Linked DNA regions of Homo sapiens. The protein of the gene in region 1 interacts with the protein of each later gene in a biochemical or structural test. Each region holds a gene or a part of one and is shown in the gene's direction. Other genes may lie near its edges. The genes, in order: DSG1, JUP and PKP1.

The links.
Region 2: the proteins of DSG1 (region 1) and JUP form a complex in vitro, tested with the Homo sapiens proteins (2 studies listed by BioGRID and IntAct).
Region 3: the proteins of DSG1 (region 1) and PKP1 form a complex in vitro, tested with the Homo sapiens proteins (2 studies listed by BioGRID and IntAct).

What each region holds. Positions count from the first base shown.
Region 1 is NC_000018.10:31,321,061-31,328,167, forward strand, and holds part of DSG1 (desmoglein-1 preproprotein), read left to right. Parts: intron 1-5,520; coding exon 5,521-5,556; intron 5,557-5,813; coding exon 5,814-5,945; intron 5,946-7,107. UniProt on the Homo sapiens protein: Component of intercellular desmosome junctions. Involved in the interaction of plaque proteins and intermediate filaments mediating cell-cell adhesion.
Region 2 is NC_000017.11:41,776,698-41,783,804, reverse strand, and holds part of JUP (junction plakoglobin), read left to right. Parts: intron 1-7,107. UniProt on the Homo sapiens protein: Common junctional plaque protein. The membrane-associated plaques are architectural elements in an important strategic position to influence the arrangement and function of both the cytoskeleton and the cells within the tissue.
Region 3 is NC_000001.11:201,278,836-201,286,545, forward strand, and holds the start of PKP1 (plakophilin-1), read left to right. Parts: upstream 1-4,670; 5' UTR 4,671-4,867; coding exon 4,868-5,069; intron 5,070-7,710. UniProt on the Homo sapiens protein: A component of desmosome cell-cell junctions which are required for positive regulation of cellular adhesion.

The sequences.
Region 1 (7,107 bases):
TTTCCCCCTCTTTCTATGGGTTAATATTTCATTTCGAAACAAACAAACAAAAAAAAACCCAACCCTCTGACACCTGATAAACTAACTCCACAGTTTGAACCGAACTGAAATTCTGTAAAATATGAGCAGGAGTTTTTAAGAGTACTTTCATCACTCAGGCTAAAATACACAGAAAATAATACACATTTCATTACATAGTTCCTAAACTTACTTGAAGACATCTTAAGTCCCCAAAATTGTGTTCACAGATGCCTAAAGCAAGAGAAGAACTAACAAATTAGTACAGACCAAACAGAAGACAAGCAAAAGAGAGAGCTCTTTGTGCTTTCTTGAGCGTGTATTATAGTGATATGTAGTATAGAGATCAGTGTTTCAGTAAAATATTTTGTAGAAAATGGAAGGAATATTTCTGTTCACGTATTCAGTGAAACTTACAAATTGCATTCAAGTGTCATCATTAACAGTTATATGGTGTTCATAAAAGCTTTATTATTTCGCTGTAGATTTAGGATTAGCATCTTCTATCACCTTTACAGAAACAAGGAGTACACATTTATCATCGCTCAATTGGTTTGAGTTGCCACAAAGTAAAAACATTTTGTCATCCCTGTTTTAGGAAAAGAGTAGAAACTAAAGCACTGAAGAATGCTGTCTTAAATCTGAAAGGCTGACCCTAGAATAAGATTCACTTATTTAACAAATCTCATCAATCTAGAAAATTATCTTATCTATACCCAGAGCACTTAATTTCTGGTAACTCTTTCTCCACAACACATTCATCAAAGACCTGGTTGCTGAGTATCCCTGTGTCCTAATAGACATTGCCTAACATATCAGCAGGAAGCCTGCTGTGCCAGGCACCGCAATTAGATTTATAATGCTCCCTCATCTCAGGGAACACCCTTGCCCAGTGCTGGGTCATGCCACCCTTGCTGATTATGCTTGATATGCAAATTCCTTCAATAGACTTAGACAGATCAAATTTTTTTAAATGCCATTGGCTGCTGATCCATGCTCTTAATTGGTCTATGAGAATAGGCCACAGTTTTTCATACTCGTCTAATGAGAAATCATATCTCTACAAATTAATGGTTGCCTGTTGCTCTCAAAACTGCAAGACTGTAAGTTATTTGAAGGCAGGTTCTGTGTCTGATTTGCCTTTGTATCCCTTATGGTGCCTTGCACCAGTGCAAGATTGCTCAAAAGATGTCTAATCACACACAGCAGAGGTACCACAAGGAAGTTTCTGGATAGTTTATACAGCTCTTCCCCCACACACTCCAAAAAATTATCACGCTATTAAACATAGAAATAATAATACTGGATTTCCCCAACATTTTAATGGTGTAGTATTAAATTCATTTTACATTTCACCTGAGACTTACTATAATATTTTCAGGCCTTTAAAAGTCTTAATCTAGTGTTGGATCCACATAATACACATTCAGTATGTACTTGTAAAATACACAAACGAAAAGAATAAATTAGAGAATTCAACCCATTAAGGTGCTGTCAACCTCAGACTGATACCCTTTGTCAGAGCAGTACAAAGGAAAGATAAGAGGAGGTTTTTAAATAAAGCAAATTGTGATATTTTAGCTTTGTTTCAAGTGCATCCTTGCGATGTATATAAAAGTTAACAATTACATTAGAATTGAATGCTTAACAAAAACGTAACAATTATGTTAGAATTCAACGCTTAGCAAAAAGTGACTTGGAAGACCATCTCACAATTATTAAATGCAAGAGATTTTTTAAATAAAAATAGCTTGTTACTCTCAAACCCATTTTTATTATGTGCAAGGAAGCATGAACTTCAATATTAAAAAGGAAAACATTAAAAATTACTGTAATTGGGGATTTATTAAAATTAGCCTGTGATTTTGTCTCCTGTAGCTTTTAAAAAGTACATAAATGGATTGGTTCCTAAAACAGAAATGAAGGGGAAACTCATTGAGGATGTATTTCAGGTGAATTATTTACTGTTTTCATAGAATTTTAGGACTAGAGGGGACTTTTAGTCTCATATACAGCTGAGGAAACTGAGCACAGATTGATTTAATGACTTACCCCAAAGTCCCTATCCACTGGGCAAAACAGCTGAGATATACTCAGTCAGCCTGATAACCTCTGTGTTCATCTCTAGGTAAATCTCCATCACAGCCTCCATAGCACAGACTCCAAACTCATTTGGGAATCCAAACTTCTCCCCTAATTGTCAGAAAATAACCTCACCCTTACTCCAGGGACAAGGTCTAGGTCATTTAGGAGAGTGTCCTCCAATTTCCCTTCCCCAGTTTATTGATTTTAATCTCCATCCACCTCACCCTTACTCCAGGGACAAAGTCTAGGTCATTTAGTACAATGTCTTCCAATTTCCCTTTCCTAATTGATCGATTTTAATCTCTATCTTTCCTTGCCTTTGTCTTTGAGGTCCTTTCTTTTTCTGCCCATTCTCTCCTGCTCTCCCTATCACAACACTTCTATGAGAATCTTCCTGCTGAACATCTCTTCTTTTAAATCAAAATCTCCTCCTAGCTTCTATCTTAACTTTCAAAAATCCTTAGGTTACCCTCTCTCAAAAAAAAATGCTACTATCTTGTCCCTCTGTTCCCTTTTATCACCAATGTCTTGAAAAAGTGACCATCTTTATGTCCTCCTCTCCTCCTCTCATTTCCTAATCCCTTGCTGTCAAGCAAGTGCATGTTCCATCCAGCTAAAAATATTCTCTTGAAGGTCCCTCAGAACCTCAGGATTTCCTCAGAATTCACTCTGCTCAACTTTTTTACCTCATCTCTTTCAACCCCATCTGTCTTTCCGTTTTCCTTTTCCTCTGACCTCCATTATAATGCATTATATTTTCCTATTGTTTCTTTCGCCATTCCTTCTCTCTTTCGCCACTCCTTCTCTCCTTCCTTTTTTTTTTTTTTTTTTTTTTCTTTTTTTGAGACAAAGTCTTGCTCTGTCCCCAGGAGTGCAGTGGTGCAATCTCGGCTCACTGCAACCTCCGCCTCCTGGGTTCCATTGATTCTCCTGCCTCAGCCTCCCAAGTAGCTGGGACTACAGGCACGCACCACGACGCCCAGCTAATTTTTGTATTTTTAGTGGAGACGGGGTTTCACCATGTTGGCCAGGATGTTCTCAGTCTCCTGACCTCGTGATCCACCCGCCTCGGCCTCCCAAAGTGCTGGGATTACAGGCGTGAGCCACAGCGCCCGGCCCTCTCCTTCCTTTTTTTTTTTTTTGTTTGTTTGTTGTCGTTGTTCCTAGTTCTATAAATGTAGGAACTCTTCTAGTTTTATCCTCAATTGCAGGCTGATTCTTGACTGTATCCTCTACTTTGGAAATTTCAAATTCTCACGATTTCAACTATCCTGCCTGAGCAGATCTACCTCAAATCTACATATCCAGCTTGAACTTTTGCTCAAGTTTTGATCCATGTTTCCAATTGCTGATCATCTTCACCCAGGCATTATCTGGCATCTCAAACTCAATGTGTTCTAATCTGCTAAATTCTATTACTGTCTTGTTCCCAATCCCACAGTTTAAAACTGCCATCCCCTGAGCTTCCTCCCTCTCTCGAACACCCCCATCCCATTTGTTCTCAAGCCCTGCCAATGCTATGCTGCAGTATCCCTTGATCTTTCCCCATCCATTCCCTCTGTCTCTGCTCCAGCGTACCTCCTTCTCACCTCCAGTCTGCTTTGATACAGAGACCCTCAACTGCTCACCGTCTGTAATCACTGCCTCTTCCCACTAGTCCTACCAACTGTTGTCAGAGTTAGCTTTAAAACCACAATTTTATCATGCTCTTCTCACATCTAAATACTTCAATATTTTCCTACTGCACACAGGCATTTAATATTACAGCTGGAAAGTTACCTGTATAAAATTTAGTCTACTCTTGTCATTTTACAAGTGAGAAAACTAAAGTTCAGAGAATTGGGGAAATACGTTGAAGATTTTCCAACTCTATCAAGAGTCAGATTTCACTATTTTGCCTTTGAAAGTCCAAGAGTGACTTTGTATCAGAGTTTATTCTAGACTCTGAGCAACAGAAAATAAGCTTACACCAACCCACCACATTTTTAAGCAGACTTGGCGGTTTTTAGATTACAAATCCAGTTGAGAGTCTGACTGTATGGTGAAAGCTACTTGGTCTTCTGCCCAAATTGTCTCTCATGGGAAAAAGAGTGACCCAGCTTCATAAAGCTGGAAAGATTTCTTAGTCATCTGCATAGCTTTCCAAAACAAACAGCAAGCACTGGCGCTCCAATGCAGTAAGGGAAGCGCAATAACAGATAACAGATCCATGCACAATTCTGTAGCTATGAAGAAATGGCTTTCAAACACACAAATAAGGTATGCCCATCTCCCATCCCACACTCACAAACAAGAGAGAGGGAAAAGTGTTCATAAATTCACAGGCAGCAAGGAGCATGCATTTACATGAACACCATTTCATCATTTCAGTTCTGCACCCAAGATGGGCTCTACAGATAACATTTCAGTTACATGTTTTAAAATTTGGGCCATTTACTTTTCTTTTTTTTTTCTTCATGCTGTATTCCTATTGTCGTATGTAAATATCACCAATCACAAGGATAATAGGTTAGTTTAAAATCAGAATTTTTTGAGTTCTTGAAGTTGCAATATAAATTCTTTGTAGCATGCTTTTCTTAGTAGTAATTTACTTGAGGGAATAGGCTATCTCATATTTTATTGTAAAACCCACAGCTCAAGTGAAAATTTATGCTAAATTGTATTGAATTATATTTAGCCATAGGTTAATATCCAAGACTCAATTTCCTCATCTGTAAAATGGAGATAGTATTAGTGGTGACCACATGTATTTGTTGTAAAGATTAAGTGCATAGATTTACATAAATACATAACCTAATACCTAGCTATTATTTAACAAATTATAAGAGTAATAACAATCATAATTATTAATATTAGATACACAATGGATATGTAATTCTCATAATAAAAACATTATCTTTTTATACTTCTCATATTGATCATAAATACTTATTTTCTGAATTATCTATTGTGGCAATTTTTTTAAAGTAGATACTTAGAGACATTAAGTTCATATTTTCTTTAATGCTACAATTAAAATTAACTATAAAAAGAACTTTTTTATATTTTTAAATTACTACTGTTAGTATTTTTAAATGTAAACTATAATTTTCTTATATCAGTTATACAAATAAAGTTTTCATACTTTGCAATTCTGAATAAATTCAATTAAAAGTTAAAAATTTCTTATTTAGGGAGAAATACAAGTACAAAATAATAGTAATAAAAAGAAGAGTAAATTGAAAGGTAAAAACAAAAATTCTTAGCATCATCATCAGACCCAAGACATAAACCAAATCCACCTGCTATTTGGCTGATAAAATAATTTTAATGACTCACAAGCCTATGGTTTCATGTTGTTTTTAAAGTAACTGGATAATATAAATTTTAAAGCATTTAATTAAAAAATAACTAGTGTGATTATCTTATTTTTTACAGGTGGTGGTAGAAGTTAACAGTGAATTCCGAATCCAGGTAATATATAACAAATCCATTTTTCCAAATTTTTAAACAAGAAAATAATTTGAGAATAACAATATGTTTTCTGAAGAAAATGTATTCTCATAAGTCAAGTTCATATAATGCTAAAATTAATAGATTACCAAAATTACCAATTTTCCCAATTAAACATCCTCTATTTCTGAGATTATAACCTCTTCCAAAAATCTCAGTGGAATTTGAATTACGAATTCAAATTAATATATACCATTTCTTTATTGCTGTCATTTAAGGTAAGAGATTATAACACTAAAAATGGCACCATCAAATGGCATTCAATCCGAAGGCAGAAACGTGAATGGATCAAGTTCGCAGCAGCCTGTCGTGAAGGTGAAGACAACTCAAAGAGGAACCCAATCGCCAAAGTAGGTATCAACTCCAAAGCATAACATTGAAAATCAGAATGGATAAAGTTTCAAAAGAAACTGTCTGCTAAATATTTCATGAACATGTCTCACCGAGAAGCTACGATACAGAACAGAACTATAGTCACCTAGATGATGAAAACTGAAACTCATAAGGAGAAATTAAGAAATGCAGGTGCTCAGAGAAACAGGCAAACGTTGACTCACCTCATTGGTGAAATGCATACACATGATCATGTGTTATCCCAAACTCCAGATGAAAAAAGATCATTATTTTAATAAAGAATTTGGCTTTCAGCACATTCAAAGGAATTACTTCAATGTGTGCTCTTTTTGCCTCACAATGTATTAGAATTGAATTCCTACTTTTTTGTTTGTTTATTAACATTCACAAGGTGCCCTCTCTCATACCCCTTTTCTATTCATTTTTCCATATCTTCCTTTCTACATACACACACACTCAGAAACACCCCCCACAAATTCATGAACATACAGATGTACACGTCCACAGATACACACACGAATATACACATTCATCCACACAGACACTCACAAATACTCCCCACTAGGATTTGTTTACAGCCAAACAATATTTTATTTCAAAGAAAGAGTTCTGGTTTCTATAACCATTTATTCGCGTGGTCTCCTTCCTTTTCTGCTAATACACCCTTCCCATTTTCAGAATTCAGAGCTTCCACTCAAACCCAGATAACTCTTGTCACCTAAATAAATCTACTTTCTTCGAAAACTTTACATTTAAAACAAATTGAAGATTAAAGTTGCATGATGACAACATTGATAAACTCCTTAAGAGGGCAAAGAGTTTCCTTCTGTAGCTCCAGTGCAAGCACAGACCCTGCAAATAATACAAGATCAAATTTTAACTGTTGAATGAATGAAGTCATGCATGATGATTGCATAGACTTAGATATAGTAGGGTGATATTTCGCATTTTTTCATGTTTCATAGAAGCAGAAACCGAATTTCTTTGATTACATTGTCAGTTACCATTGAAAATATTAGAGCTGTAATTGTTACTCTTATCTAGGAAAATAATCTCCATTGACAACATTTCCTAAATAACAAGGTCATCACATGCAACAACTCTCAAGAAAGCTGTCGTATATCAAATATAGAACTCTATTTGCTCCCTCTAATATTT
Region 2 (7,107 bases), on another chromosome or scaffold:
CAGGATTACAGGCGTGTGCCACCACCCCCGGCTGATTTTTGTATTTTTAGTAGAGACAGGGTTTCACCATGTTGCGCAGGCTGGTCTTGATCTCCTGACCTCGTGATTCGCCCGCCCCGGCCTCCCAAAGTGCTGGGATTACAGGCGTGAGCCACCTCACCTGGCCCAAACCAAGCACTTTCATTAACTATTTTTACTTAATCCTTATGGCTGGCCAGGCTGGATGGCTCAGACCTGCAATCCCAGCACGTTAGGAGGCCCAGAAGGGTGGACTGCTTGATTGAGCCCAGGAGTTCCAGACCAGCCTGGGCAACATGGAGAAACCCTGTCTCTACAAAAAAATAGAAAAATTAGCCGGGCGTGGTGGTGCATGCCTGTGGTCCCAGCTACTGGGAATGTTGAGGTGGGAGGATTACCTGAGCCCAGGGAAGTCAAGGCTGCAGTGAGCTGTGTCACTGTATTCCAGCCTGGGCAACAGAGTGAGTCCCTGACTCAAAAAAAAAAAAAAAACAAAAAAAACGCGTATCATTATTCGCATTCTACAGAGGAGGAAATTGAAACTCAAGGAACTTAAGTAATTTCCCCAATGTTGTACAGCGAGACCCAAGCAGCACCAAGACTGACGTTTGGGTCCTCTGATTCCAAGCCCAGAACCCATCCTGCTGTATTGCCCCATGCAGCTCTGGAAAGGATTTTTTTTTTTTTTTTGAGATGGAGTCACGCTCTGCCACCCAGGCTGGAGTGCAGTGGCGCGATCTCGGCTCACTGTAACGTCTACCTCCTGGGTTCAAGCGATTCTCCTGTCTCAGCCTCCCGAGTAGCTGGGATTACAGGCATGCACCACCACACTAGGCTAATTTTTGTATTTTTAGTAGAGATGGGGTTTCACCATGTTGGTCAGGATGGTCTCGAACTCCTGACCTTCAGGAGATCCGCCCGCCTCAGCCTCCCAAAGTGCTGGGATTACAGGTGTGAGCGGAAAGGATTTTTCTGCACCCCCTTTTGAGAGCCTCTGCCTGACTGGGGAGAAGAGAATTCAGAAGGGCCCATGAAGGCATGTGTGAGTGGTGAATGTAGGGCAGGTTTTGTAGGTGGGGGTGATACCTGTCCTGGCCACCAGCCCACTTAAATCTCCCCAGTGGCTTGATTTTTAGTTTCCGGTGGAAGCGGCTTCTCCCCAAGGCCAGGGCTGTGGTGAGTGTTGGGGGGAGGTTGAGAGGGAAAGAGGAGGCAGGGGTCAAAGCTGTGCTGCCTCCTAGCTTGGGTTAGGTAGAACCATGGCTGTTCTGGGCTTGTTCATGTGTAGGAAGTGGGAGTTGCCTGCTTTGCTGGGGGCTGGGGCTATGCCAAGATAAAGGGGTGCTGCCCTGTGGGGATTGGCGAGAAACGAGAGTCCGATTTAGGCCTGGGCTAATGTCCTGCTGGAGTTGACGAGGCAGTGCTGCCAGGCTGCTCTTGATGGGGAACTGGCTGTCCTCTGCTCTGAAGCCCAAGAGACCTGAGATAGGCAGCTGCTGGGAGGGCTTTTCTGGTGATGGAGGTGGGGGTCATGTGTGCTGCCTGTCAGCCAGAGCCTTGGCCCTCTAGGGAGGAGCTGGTGTCAGATTGTTCTCCAGACCTGCCTGGTTCTGGTGTCTCTGCCAACTGGACATCTGACACCAGAATGGGCCTGGATTTGGGGTCTGGGAAATGGGTTCTCTTTATGTGATGGTGCAGCCGGAGTACTGAACCTGTCACTACCGCGCTTCTGGATTCCCTGAGGGCAGGCGGGGACCCCAGGCAACGGGATTATTGATCGTGGAGAAGGCTAATGGGACTTGAGACAGAGAAGAAAACAGAATGAACCCCATCCCACTGACTACTACAAAGAGGGCATGAGGTTGCAGTTTTTCCATCTCCCCCGAGGACTTGAGAGCTGCAGGCCCGATGCACTTACTGAAGGGACGCAGTCTAGACAGGAGGAGGGGCTTTCTGCCTGCTAAAGATGAAATCTTGAGTTGAGAAATAAGAGGGAGAGGTGGAGACTCAGCATTGACTCTTCTCTGATGAGGGCCATCCTGTGCGGCAGGGAGGCCAGACAGGAATTGCTGCCCTTTGGGGAGACTCCTCATTTGTATCTTTTGGGAGAAGAGCGACCTGGCAGTGAGAGGGAAAGGCATCTGTGAGCTGGTCCTGTGACCCCTGTGAAGAGGAAAAGCAAGCAGTGTGGCTGGGCAGGTCACCAGGGCTTGTGTTCCTGCAAGTGACACTGAGCGGCCTCTCCTGGGACATGGTTGAGTCTGGGGACATGGAATATCTTATTGTGAAGCGACTTCCTCTGCCAGGCCTGAAGGGCAAGCTCATGGACCACTCTCCTTTGCTCAGCCTCCTGGCATCTTGGCCTTTGGGGCCAGCAGAGCAGGAAGCTCAGCTTTCTTTTTCTCTTTCTTTCTTTCTTTTTTTTTTTTTGAGATGGAGTCTCTCACTCTGTCACCCAGACTGGAGTGTAGTGGCACAATCTTGGCTCACTGCAACCTCCATCTCCCGGGTTCAGGTGATTCTCCTGTCTCAGCCTCCCGCGTAGCTGGGACTACAAGCGCCTGCCAGTACGCCCAGCTAATTTTTTTTTTTTTTTTTTTTTGAGACGGAGTCTCACTCACTCTGTCGCCCAGGCTGGAGTGCAGTGGCACGATCTCCGCTCGCTGCAAGCTCCGCCCCCTGGGTTCACACCATTCTCCTGCCTTAGCCTCCCGAGTAGCTGGGACTACAGGCGCCCGCCACCACGCCTGGCTAATTTTTTTGTGTTTTTAGTAGAGACGGGGTTTCACTGTGTTTGCCAGGATGGTCTCGATCTCCTGACCTCATGATCCACCCGCCTCGGCCTCCCAAAGTGCTGGGATTACAGGCGTGAGCCACTGTGCCCGGCCTAATTTTTGTATTTTTAGTAGAGACGGGGTTTCACCATATTGGTCAGGCTGGTCTTGAACTCCTGACCTCAGGTGATCCACTCACCTTGGCCTCCCGACATGCTGGGATTATAAGCGTGAGCCACCGCTTTTGGCACTCAGCTTTCTTTCCTCCTCCCTTCTCCTCTTCTCTTTTCTTTCTTTTTTTTTTTTGGTTTGTTTTTTGAGATGGAGTCCTGCTCTGTCGCCCAGGCTGGAGTGCAGTAGTGCAGTCTTGGCTCACTGCAACCTCTGCCTCCTAGGTTCAAGCAATTCTCCTGCCTCATCCTCCTAAGTAGCTGGGACTACAGGCATGCGCCACCATGCCCAGCTAATTTTTGTATTTTTAGTAGAGATGGGGGTGTCACTATGTTGGCCAGGCTGGTCTTGAATTCCTGACCTCAAGTGATCCACCCACCTCAGCCTCCCAAAGTGCTGGGATTACAGGCGTGAGCCACTGCGCCCGGCCTTCTTTCCTTTTTTTGAGGTAGGGACTCGCTCTGTCCCTTAGGCTAGAGTGCAGTGGCGTGATCACAGCTCACTGCATCCTTGAATTCCTGGGTTCAAGCAATCCTCCCGCCCAGCCTCCCAAGTAGCTGGGTCCACAGGTGTGCACCACCATGCCCAGCTAATTTTTAAAGTTTTGTGTAGAGACAGGGTCTTGCTATGTTGCCCAGGCTGGTCTTGGACTCCTGAGCTCAAGCATTTGTCCCATCTCAGCCTCCCAAAGTGCTGGGATTATGGGCATGAGCCACCATGCCCAGCTGAAGCTCAGCTTTCTGTGTCTTTCCCTACCATGGAGACAGTAGCAGGGACCAGAGCAGAGTTGGGACAGGGGCTTGGCAATCAATAAGCTGCTTATTTAGGGGAGACTCCTCCTCTTCCTTGATTGAGAAGGTAATATCTGGCTGGGGCAGTGGCTTACACCTGTAATCCCAACCGCTCTGAAGGTTGAGGCAGGAGGATTGCTTGAGGCCGGGACTTTGAGACCAGCCTGCCAGCCTGTGCAACATAGCAAGACCCCATCTCTTAAAAAAAAAAAAAAAAATTAGCCAAGCATGGTGGCATGTGCACGTGGTCCTAGCTACTCGGGAGGCTGAGGCGGAAGGATTGCTTGAGCCCAGGAGTTCAAGGCTGCAGTGAGCCATGATTGTGCCACTATACTCCAGCTTGGGCAACAGAGCGAGACCTTGTCTCAAAAAAGAGAAAGAAAATAAAAAAAGTAATATCTGATCATTGTAAAAAAAACTGGGGGCCAGCCGCGGTGGCTCACGCCTGTAATCCCAGCACTTTGGGAGGCCGAGGCGGGCGCATCACGAGGTCAGGAGATCGAGACCATCCTGGCTAACATGGTGAAACCCCGTCTCTACTAAAAAATACAAAGAATTAGCTGGGCGTTGTGGCAGGCACCTGTAGTTCCAGCTACTGTGGAGGCTGAGGCAGGAGAATGGCGTGAACCCGGGAGGCGGAGCTTGCAGTGAGCCAAGATTGTGCCACTGCACTCCAGCCTGGGTGACATCTGTCTCAAAAAAAAAAAAAAAAAAAAATTGGGAAGTTTAGAAAAGTTTAAGAGAAAAGAAAAAAAATCGCCCATAATCCTAAAAAGCAACTTTCATTAAGGTCTCTTCCTCTTTTTTTTTTTTTGAGACGGAGTTTTGCTCTTGTTGCCCAGGCTGGAGTACAGTGGCACAATCTCAGCTCACTGCAACCTCTGCCTTCTGGTTTCAAGCGATTCTCCTGCCTCAGCCTCCTGAGTAGCTGGGATTACAGGCACCTGCCACCATGCCTGGCTAGTTTTTTGTATTTTTAGTAGAGACGGGGTTTCACCATGTTGGCCAGGCTGGTTTCAAACTCCAGACCTTGTGATCCACCCGCCTTGGCCTCCCAAAGTCCTGGGATTACAGGCATGAGCCACCACGCCCAGCCAAGTCTCTTCCTCTTTTCTTAGCATCCTTTTTTTCTTTTTTTTTGAGACGGAGTCTCGCTCTGTCACCCAGGCTGGAGTGCAGTGGCAGGATCTCGGCTCACTGCAAGCTCCGCCTCCTGGGTTCATGCCATTCTCCTGCCTCAGCCTCCCGAGTAGCTGGGACTACAGGCACCCGCTAACACGCCCGGCTAATTTTTTATATTTTTAGTAGAGATGAGGTTTCACCGTATTAGCCAGTATGGTCTCGATCTCCTGACCTCGTGATCCGCCCGCCTCGGCCTCCCAAAGTGCTGGGATTACAGGCATGAGCCACCGTGCTCGGCAACATCCTTTTGTTCTTTAGCCTTGATCTTGATGAGCTCATCCCCTGTATATAGTAACATTTTTTTTTTTTGAGATGGGGTCTCACTGTGTTGCCCAGGCTGGAGTGCAGATCTCAGCTCACTGCAACCTCCTCTTCCTGGGCTCAAGCGATCCTCCTACCTCAGCCTCCCAAGTAGCTGGGACTACAGGCACATGCCACCACGCCCGGCTAATTTTTGCATTTTTTTGTAGAGACAGGGTTTCGCCATGTTGCCCAGACTGGTCTGGAGCTCCTGAGCTCAAGGGGATTCACCTGCCTTGGCCTCCTAAAGTGCTGGGATTACAGGGGTGAGCCACTGCACCCTGCCTACAGTAACAGATTTTAGCCAAAACTTTATTCCAATCCTGGTTTTCCAGCATGTGTTGTACAATAAACAGATGGATCTTCCCAGGAGAGGGTTATATGTAGGGATCCTTGCAGAATCACACCCCAGGGAGTGGGCCTCAGTCAGCTGGGATCGGAGCTGCTGTTATTGAGAAGTGGGCCGCCCCTGGACCCCAGGCTGCCCAAGCCCCACTGGTGGTGGTTGGAGGCAGTGGAATGAGAGTACTTGTGTATTTTGCGTCACCAACACACGTCAACCTTTTGTTGTTGTTTCCTGGTGTGGGGTGAAGTGTTTTTCCATTCCCAGGAGTCCCGGTTTGGGGTCATCTGCCAGTTTGGGAATCTGCCCACGGGGGTCACCAGCAGGGAACGGAGCTCCAGCTGGAGCCCTCTCCAGGGGAGCATAGAGGTCCCTGGGTCGAGCCACTTGGCCGTGGCAAATTCCCTCTCCTACAAATCCCCTTCATTTTCCTACCCGGGTTTGTTTGCTTTGGGAAGGAGCCCAGAAGGAGGAAAATAAACAGCAGCTGGGTCGGCAGGCCTGAGCCTCCCCCAGGCCCCAGCTCATCCTCAGGCCACAGCCTGGGCTGCTCTCCAGACTGGAAGTGAGGGTTTTCCTCCGGAAGCCTAAGACCAGCTTGTCTGACAGCTCCTGCTTCAGTTCTGCCCTCTTGGAATGGACCAGCTTGCTGATGGAGACCACAGTGTCTGCCAGAGAACCTGTAGTCTGCAGGAGGTTCCGTCCTGGAGCTGCCAGCCAGAGGGGAGAGGCCTCCTTGGGCAGCCCCAGCCTGAGAGGGAAACAGGCCCTCAAGGGAAGCCATCATGTCCATCTCTCTGGACTTTCTAGAGTCTGTGTCTGTGCTTGGAACTGCTGGCCAGACCTCAGCAGGAGCCAGGGACAGAGTGGGGAAGGTGGGGGCTGGAGATCCTGCTGAGCCCAGCTTCCCCCTGGGACTGCTATGTGGGGAATGTTCACGCCTGGCTGTGCAGCTGCCCCTGGCTGCAGGAAGCAGCATGGACTGGGCATAGGGCAGCCAGTGTCTCCACCTGGCGTGAGCGAAGTTCCACTCCCCTTCTCCTCAGCCATGTTCCCTTGACCTCCCCAGGGCCTGGGAGGCAGCTCCCTACCTAGTCCCCATCTCAGGGGTCAGAGAAAGCAGCCAGGGCTCCCCCAGACAGACTGCCATCCACCTTGCCCGACAGGTCTCTGTGCCAGCCCTCGCCTTTTTAAATTTTTATTATTTTTCTTTTTTTTTGAGACAGAGTCTCGCACTGTATCCCTGGCTGGAATGCAATTGGTGCGATCTCGGCTCACTGCAACCTCCGCCTCCCAGGTTCAAGTGATTCGCCTGCCTCAGCCTCCCGAGTAGCTGGGATTACAGGTGCCCACCACCACGCCTGGCTAATTTTTTGTATTTTTAGTAGAGATGGGGTTTCACTATGTTGGCCAGGCTGGTCTCAAACTCCTGACCTTGTGATCCACCCACCTTGGCCTCCCAATATGCTGGGATTACAGGCGTGAGCCACCGCGCCTGGCCCCCTCACCTTTTTGTTTTGAGACACGG
Region 3 (7,710 bases), on another chromosome or scaffold:
AAAGCTTTACAGGACAGTACTGCCTGCCTGCCCATCTTGTGCCCACCTGCCTGGTCTCCCTGGTCTGTCTGTTCTGAAGACATGCCAGGTTCATGGCTTGTACACTCACCATTTCCTCTGCCCAGAGCCCTTTCCCTCACTCCTGAGATGGGCAGCTGCCTCTCATGCTTCAAGTCTCAGCCTGTCACAGTCTGGTCACCATGGCTAAAGCTGTCCCTCTCTGCAGCCTCTAAGCCGCTCATTGTTTCCTTCATAGCATTTAATATAATTTGCAATCATTTACAGATCGACTCTTTGTCTATGTCTTTAGAACATATGCCCCATGAGAGCAAGATCTGGTCTTTTTCATCGTTGTATCCCCAGGGTTGACATGGTGATACCAGCCCCTTTAGGCACTCGGTACGTATTTAAGTGACTGACTGACAGTGCTCCACACAGAGGGAACAGCAAATATGCAAAGGTAAGGGGCAGGTGGCTGCATGGGGTGAGTGCTAGGATGAAAACAAAATAATGCAGGAGAAAAGACAGAGGCGATTTAGAGACTAGGGAGGGGGCAGTGCGAGTTCATCAGGGAAGGTTATAAGATTCCTGAGTTGAGCAGCCATTGAGGAGTCTGCTAACTGGCCAAAGGATGTCATCCAGAAAAGCTTTCACAATAGGGAGCTGGCCCCGTGGCCGCTGTCCAGGAAGTTCAGTTGCAGACGGACTGGGCTGAATAAGATGGGGCCACCCAGCAAGCCCAGGGATCCAGGAAGAAAACCTACCTCTTCCACGCTCCTGCGGTGTTTGCGTCAGTGAGGGGCTCAGCTAGAGGTGGTCCCCTCACCTGGGGGGCTGGAAACTGAGAAGGGAGAAGATTCAGCCCAGACACTCTTAGAAGCAGCAGGAGCCCCAGAGACCTCCTCTCAGCCTTCCTTGGGATAGCCCCCACCCACTCCTGGCCCAGCCTTCTCCTTCTCTCCTGTAGAAAATAAGCTCTAGGCCAGGCACAGTGGCTCATGCCTGTAATTCCATCACTCTGGGAGGCCGAGGTGGGTGGATCACTTGAGTTCAAGAGTTTGAGAACAGCCTGACCAACATGGTGAAAGCCTGTCTCTACTGAAAATACAAAAATCAGCCTGGCATGGTGGTGCGCACCTGTAATCCCAGCTACTCAGGAGGCTGAGGCAGGAGAATTGCTTGAACCCGGGAGGCAGAGGTTACAGTGAGTCAAGACACACCACTGCACAGAGTGAGAGTGACAGAGTGTAAATTCTGTAAGAGCAGGAACTTTGTCTTCCTCACCATTGTATCCTTAGTACCTGGGACAAGGTCTGTCACATAGCAGATGCTCAGTCAATACTTGTTGAGTAAATGAACTCATATTTCACTTTTTAATGAACATAGAGATGACAGGATGTGAAGTCTGGGAGCCAGAATGTTGAAAGGGAAATCTGGGTCACACTTAATGCTCTAAGGAGGCAGCAAAGAGAATTAGAAGCCCGTTCATACTCATTCCTTTGAGGATGAAAATATACTCATCTTATTTCAGAATCAAGTCAAAATTAACTTCTTTCAGGATGCTTCCCCCTGATCACCCCCAACACCTTCCAAGCCAAAATTAACCCATATCCATTAGAATTTTAACATCTAAATATATGTTCTGACAGTCACCTGAAAGCATGCCATTTCAGAGCCAGGATCATGTGACTGTGCCTCCTTGACATCTTTTCTTCACTTTAGGAGTGTTAGCCTCCTTGCTGGTTGATTTCTGAGACAGGCCCCACATAGGGTGGGGCTCAGGCAGGCAGAAGAGAGAGAGAGATTATGGAAATAGCATTGGCCTGCTGGCTCAAAACCATATACCTGAGCCCCAAACCAATCCTCCCAGCCTGAGTATATCTCCCTCACCGTGGCCCAGAATGTGTAACCTGACTTCTCTTTCCTCTCCTCCTCTGTCAGAAGGGCCTGATTCAAGATGTCCTGCCCTACAAATCCCCACAATCGACAGAATTATAGAATGTTGGGGCTAGAGTGGAGTTTAGGAGCCACGAAGTTTACCCGCTCTCTTTGTAGATTGGTGCAAGGGACGGAGGAAGGCACTTGTCTAACATGAAGCTAGTTAGTGACACAACTAGATCAGGAACCCAGCTGGCCTGACTTTCGTGCCCTGTGATGGGAATGGATGCTGTTAAAATACCTATCCAGAGAAGGATCTGCTTGTCACAGAGAAATCTCGAGGCGGCAGCCTGGCACTGCCACTGAGTGTCCAGCTCTGGATTGCAGTTGCCTTGTCTGCCTGTTGCCAGCTGGGTGGCCTCATGGAACTTCAGTTACCTCATCTGAAAAAGAAGGGTGATGGTGCCCACCTCATAGGGTCATTGTAAGGATTTAAATGATGTGGTTCGTGTACAGGGCTCAGAACAATGCCTGGTTGGTAGGCATGGTGTTTGGAGGAGCATAGTAAATGCTATTGCTATCAATATGTCAAAATAATGTCAATATTAACATAGTAGAGAAGTAGCTAGAAAAACTGAACTTCATACCTGGAAACAATTTTAAAGATAATCAGTTCTGCTTCCACGGACTTGCCTTTTATAGGAAGATGAGCTACTCTAATCCCCTCCTTCAGGGCCCTTCTATATCCTAGAATAGGAAAATTATCGTTATTTAAAGATGTAATTAACATTTATTATGGCTAGCATATTAGGTTTTAGATAGGCCAAATGTGTGATACAATAGAATTGTATTTTTATATGCTGCTGTGTATACTTTACAGTACATTGGGGCCCTTATATAATCGGTGTGCACTGTACTTTAATGTCCATTTTATAGGACTTTTATAAGGGAAGCTGGATGATGTGGTGGAATGAGCACTGTGCCAGGAGTCACAAGGCCTGGTTAGGATGCAGGCTTTGCCACATATTAACTGGGGCATTGCAAGCAAGCTACCTCCTCTCCTAATCAGTGAAATGCAGTGCTTGGCTGGATGAAGTCCAAGGCTCTGTCCAGTCCTGGCGGTCTATGGCTAGAGGCAGAATCTTACAATATGAAGTGATAATAGAGGTTTACAGGTATTTTGTACACATCTATGACATATTTTTTATCACATCTCTGGTTTACTTGAGGTTAAGTTCTTAGGAACAGCGCCCTCAATAATAAAACTGTTTCTATTGGAAACTATAATCTGCTTTACAATAATCTGCTCTGCAAATTGCTACTAGGAATACCTTCCTTGGGAAAGCTGGGGCTCCCCGCATGTAACACCCACATCTCAGGAGTTGCGTGAGTGACCTTCATGTACATGGTCCCTGAGACAGTCATTCAGTCTTCTTGATCCTTCCTCGACATAAAATTCCCAAAAAGAATAGATTTCTGATTGTCCTTTCCTCTGTAGATTAGAAGAGCAAACTAAAAGTAAAATATGTGAGCTGTGAGCGGCAGCCTCAAATGACAGCAAGAGTGACGGCTGTGATAGTGTCACACACTGGTGGAGGCCCCAAAACTAAGAAACTGACCGGACAGCACGACTACACAGTTCAGTAATGGATGTCCAGAATGAGAAACCCAGGGCATCAAGAAGTACAGCAAATATGTTCAGTGTTGTTTGCTTTAGGAGGCAAACAGAATGCGATACCTTTTAGAAAGATTTCCATCAAAGTAAATACTTAAAAAAAAAAAAAAACACTCAGCTCCTGTTACACACCAAATTCACTGATGTGGGCTCCCTCCACGCCTGGAGAGGATGCTACATGAATAAAGCTTCACTGCACATGTGTCCCCAGGGGTGAGTGTATATAGGGGAATGCACACAGTGGTCCCAGAATAATAAGTCCAGAGTGAAATTTCAGGGTAAAGCAGCTTTTCAATTTTTCAGTGAGGATCTGGTTAGGATCCGAGTTAGATTTAATTTACCTTAAATTAACTAGCATTCACGTATTCACCTATTTAAAATATTTTTTATTAAGCGCCTAATATTATGTGTGCCAGGCATTGTTTTAGAGGTTATAGTGGAGTTTCAGAGAGGATCCGCTGTTCACGTGGTGTTTTACCGGGGTATACTCATGAACAACAAATAACCACCGGTTTTACCAAGGCATACCCACTGTGTGGTCTGATATCCCAAGTCTGCTCCTTGATGTGGCCTTACTGCCCCTACCCCACTTTCTTCAGAGGAAGCTCCTTTAGAGTAGACTGGGTTACCCCCATAAGATGGAGCACTCCTTTGGAGCAAGAGCTATGGTTCTGCCATCAGCCCGGGAGCCTCCACCGCCGGGGTTGGTCTCTGCTATGACCTCAGTACAGAGGGAGATGGACGCCTGGCTCTCCTGGGCAGCCTGGTCAAGAAAGACTCCTTTCTTTCCTAGAGAGAGGTCTCCCTCGGTTCCTGAGCTGAGCACATGCTTTCTCAGTGAGCCGGCAGAACAGGACAGAGGGGCGTCTCCCTGGGGCCTCAAGGCTTGCGACGTTTCTTGCTCATGGGGAGAGGGAAGGGAGAGAAAAAAAAGAGCGAGCAGGAAGGCGCCCAGCGTCCCACACAGGGGACTCGCAGCCCTGCCCCCAAGAGCGCTGGCTCCGCAGCAGCAGTGCCCTGCAGCTCCGCGTCTGAGCAGCAGCAGCGCGCGGCCCGGTGGAGTGGGTGGTGCAGGGCAGGGGTGGTATATCCTGTCTGACGGAGGGCGGGCCTCGCCAGTGCCAGAGAGGGACGAACCAGGGTGGAAGCGCCAGGAGCAGCTGCAGGGAGCCCTCACGCGGACCACGCACTCTATGGCCGTAGGGAGCCGCTGAGAGCGAGAAGAGCACGCTCCTGCCCGCCCGCTGCACCGCACCTCGCCTCGCCTCTCTGCTCTCCTAGGCCCCGGCCGCGCGCCACCCGCCTCCCGCCACCATGAACCACTCGCCGCTCAAGACCGCCTTGGCGTACGAATGCTTCCAGGACCAGGACAACTCCACGTTGGCTTTGCCGTCGGACCAAAAGATGAAAACAGGCACGTCTGGCAGGCAGCGCGTGCAGGAGCAGGTGATGATGACCGTCAAGCGGCAGAAGTCCAAGTCTTCCCAGTCGTCCACCCTGAGCCACTCCAATCGAGGTAAAGGCTCGGCCCCCGCGTGGTCCGTGCGCCCCTTTCCAGAGCACCCTGGCCCAGTGGCGGGGACCAAGAGACGCACGCATCCCCGGGGATGAGGGGAGGCGAGGGGCTGCCGGCCCCAGGCAGGGTCTACGCACCTAGTGCGAGCAGCCGAGCTCCCAGCCGGTTCTGAGCTGGTGTAAACGCGACCCGAGGCTGGCTCGACGGCCCCGCGAGCTCGATGGCGCGCTAGTGGGCAAGGATGGGTGATTCACCGGGACACAGCCAGGAGCATGTCCCAGCGTGCCAGGAGGTTGAGGATCCCCCGCGAGCGGTTCTCCTGTCCCTGAGCCCTGGGTCTGGACGGCTTTCTCTTTCGGATGCTGCTCTAGGGATCTGCCCTGCATCCTGTCTGGCCCCGGCTGTCCTGGGGCCCATGGTCCCCGCGCTCGCAAACGGTTGTGGGCCACCCTTCACCCTTCCTGGGCTTGATCTCCTGGCCTTCAGCTGGAGGCCGATGCCCAGCGTCCAGGCCAAGGGGAACCCCAGTCCCTGTGGGGCCGCGCATGAGTATCCGCGAGCGGGGTGAGGGAGTCGCTGAGACAGGAGTGCAGCTCAGGAGAGGCGCTGCGGGACGGGAAAGTGGCACAGGGAGCAGGGACGAGGGCCTGGAACTCCAGGGCACTTTATCGAGAGCCTCCTGAAAGAGGCTAGCCTAGTTGGAAGGCCGCCCCAGGGCCAGTGGGTCCCTTGACGACAGGGAAGGGGGTCAGGGATGCTTTCTTTCCCGAATAGCCAATGCAGAAATCCTCTTTCCCACTGGATTCTTCTTACCCCACCCAGCTTAGGTAGAAACAAGTGTCTCATGGGGAGAGTACGGAATGGCAGGTTGGAAATCCCCCCGGGCCCCAGGGAGACCTCCAGCTGAACCCTCACGGGCACTTTTCCAAGCTGGATCCCGGGCCTGGCACCCCCTCCTCCAGCCTCTGAGAGGCCAGATCCCATGACTGGGGGAACCTGGGAGAAAGGGGCAGCACCCAGGAAACTCAAGGAGGAAGGGGCAGTACCTGACAGGGGAGAGCTTATAGACCAAGTAAACACTTTGATACAAAGGATGCCTGGTAAGAATTACACACAAGTGAGCAAAGATTCCACTTGTTTATTTATTTACTTATTTTATTTAGCTAAGTTTAGTAAAATGCTAATAAGACTTTACCCATTACCAAACAGTACAGGTCAACCAAGACTTATGTATTAAGACAGGCCTTAGGAGAGAGTGAGGGGCAGGGGGTAATAAGGTGGAAGGAGACAAAAGAAACCGACCCTGGCCCTTCCACCACACACACACACACACACACACACACACACACACACACACACACCTCACACTTCCTTCTACCTGTGGCTTCTGTCCCCCCACCTACTCCCTAGCCCCCATTCCTGAGTGGCCCCTTGTAGAGCCGAGGGAAGGAAAATGGCCGGCAGAGGACTTCCTGGGCCCCAGACCTAAAGGCCTTTGCTTCTCTGTGTGCTCTTTGCCTTTGTGTGGGCTCCAGGCTCCTCTCGTCACATTTCCACTCAAGATCATGCCACCTCCAGAGCACTTGCCTCCTTCCCTTTTATTTGGTGCCTTGGTAGGTGCCTCCTAGCCTCTTTAGAATTAGGTTTGGAATAACAAAGTGCCCCCATTTCTGGCTACAGCCCAGAGCACAGCTCAACCTACTCTCCTCTCTGCACAAGACTTGGCTGTCCCCTTCCCACTCCCACTCCATCCCAGCCTGAGCTCTTGGCTCACAACTCCAGAAAACTCAAACCGGCCCTGGGTGCCCCAAGGACCCCTTTTTCCTCCTACCTATCGGGATATTGGCTGAGTGTCTGTCAGCAAGAAGTGCACTTTCTGGGCTTGGTCTTTGTGGGGAACTTCTATCTGATAAGGTCTCCTTTGTTCCCTCTTTGTTTTTCCTCCCAAGGTCCCCCAGGGGGCTTCACTGGGGGAGGGTTGATGCTGATGGCTACCTCTCCAGAAACTCCAAGGTCTAGCCCTGTGGGCGTGTCCCCTCTACCCTCAGACTCTGCGGAGGTTCCTAAAGGAGGCTGCAGAGGCATCCTTGCTGGAAGAGGCGGTTTGGTCACTTGGAGCTGGTGTTTCTGGTTTATCTGGCTTAGTTTTCATCAGATTTCCTTGTCTTCTCCATCAGAAACACCCAAACGTCCCCTATTTGCTCTGCGGCCACCTCTACTCACTCTGCTCCCTCTTTCTTATGCTGGTTTACCTGTCAGGAGCCTGCTTTGGTTCCTGGAATGGAATGAGCTGGTAGCTGTGGAAGGACCATGCCCCAGGCGTTTTCCCTCGCCCCCTGGACAGATTCAGGTTCTTGTTTAGTCTCTTCCAAGAGCAGAGTCAGTTTACCTAGGGTCTTCTTGAGCCCCTTGAATCCCATCCAAAGTTTCCCTAGTTAAGAAGGGCCAACCATACCCCACAGGTTGCCTGGAAGAGTAGCCACTGCTCCTTGTACCCCAGGAAGGACAGTCAGGACCAGCCATCCTTGGTCCTGTGATAGAAGTGGCTTCTCAGTTCCTCTCCACTAGTGCTCTTTTCTCTCTTGTCACTGAGGGAGTATTGAGCCACTGAGGACTGGAGGAAGGGCCCCTGGAGCCTGTC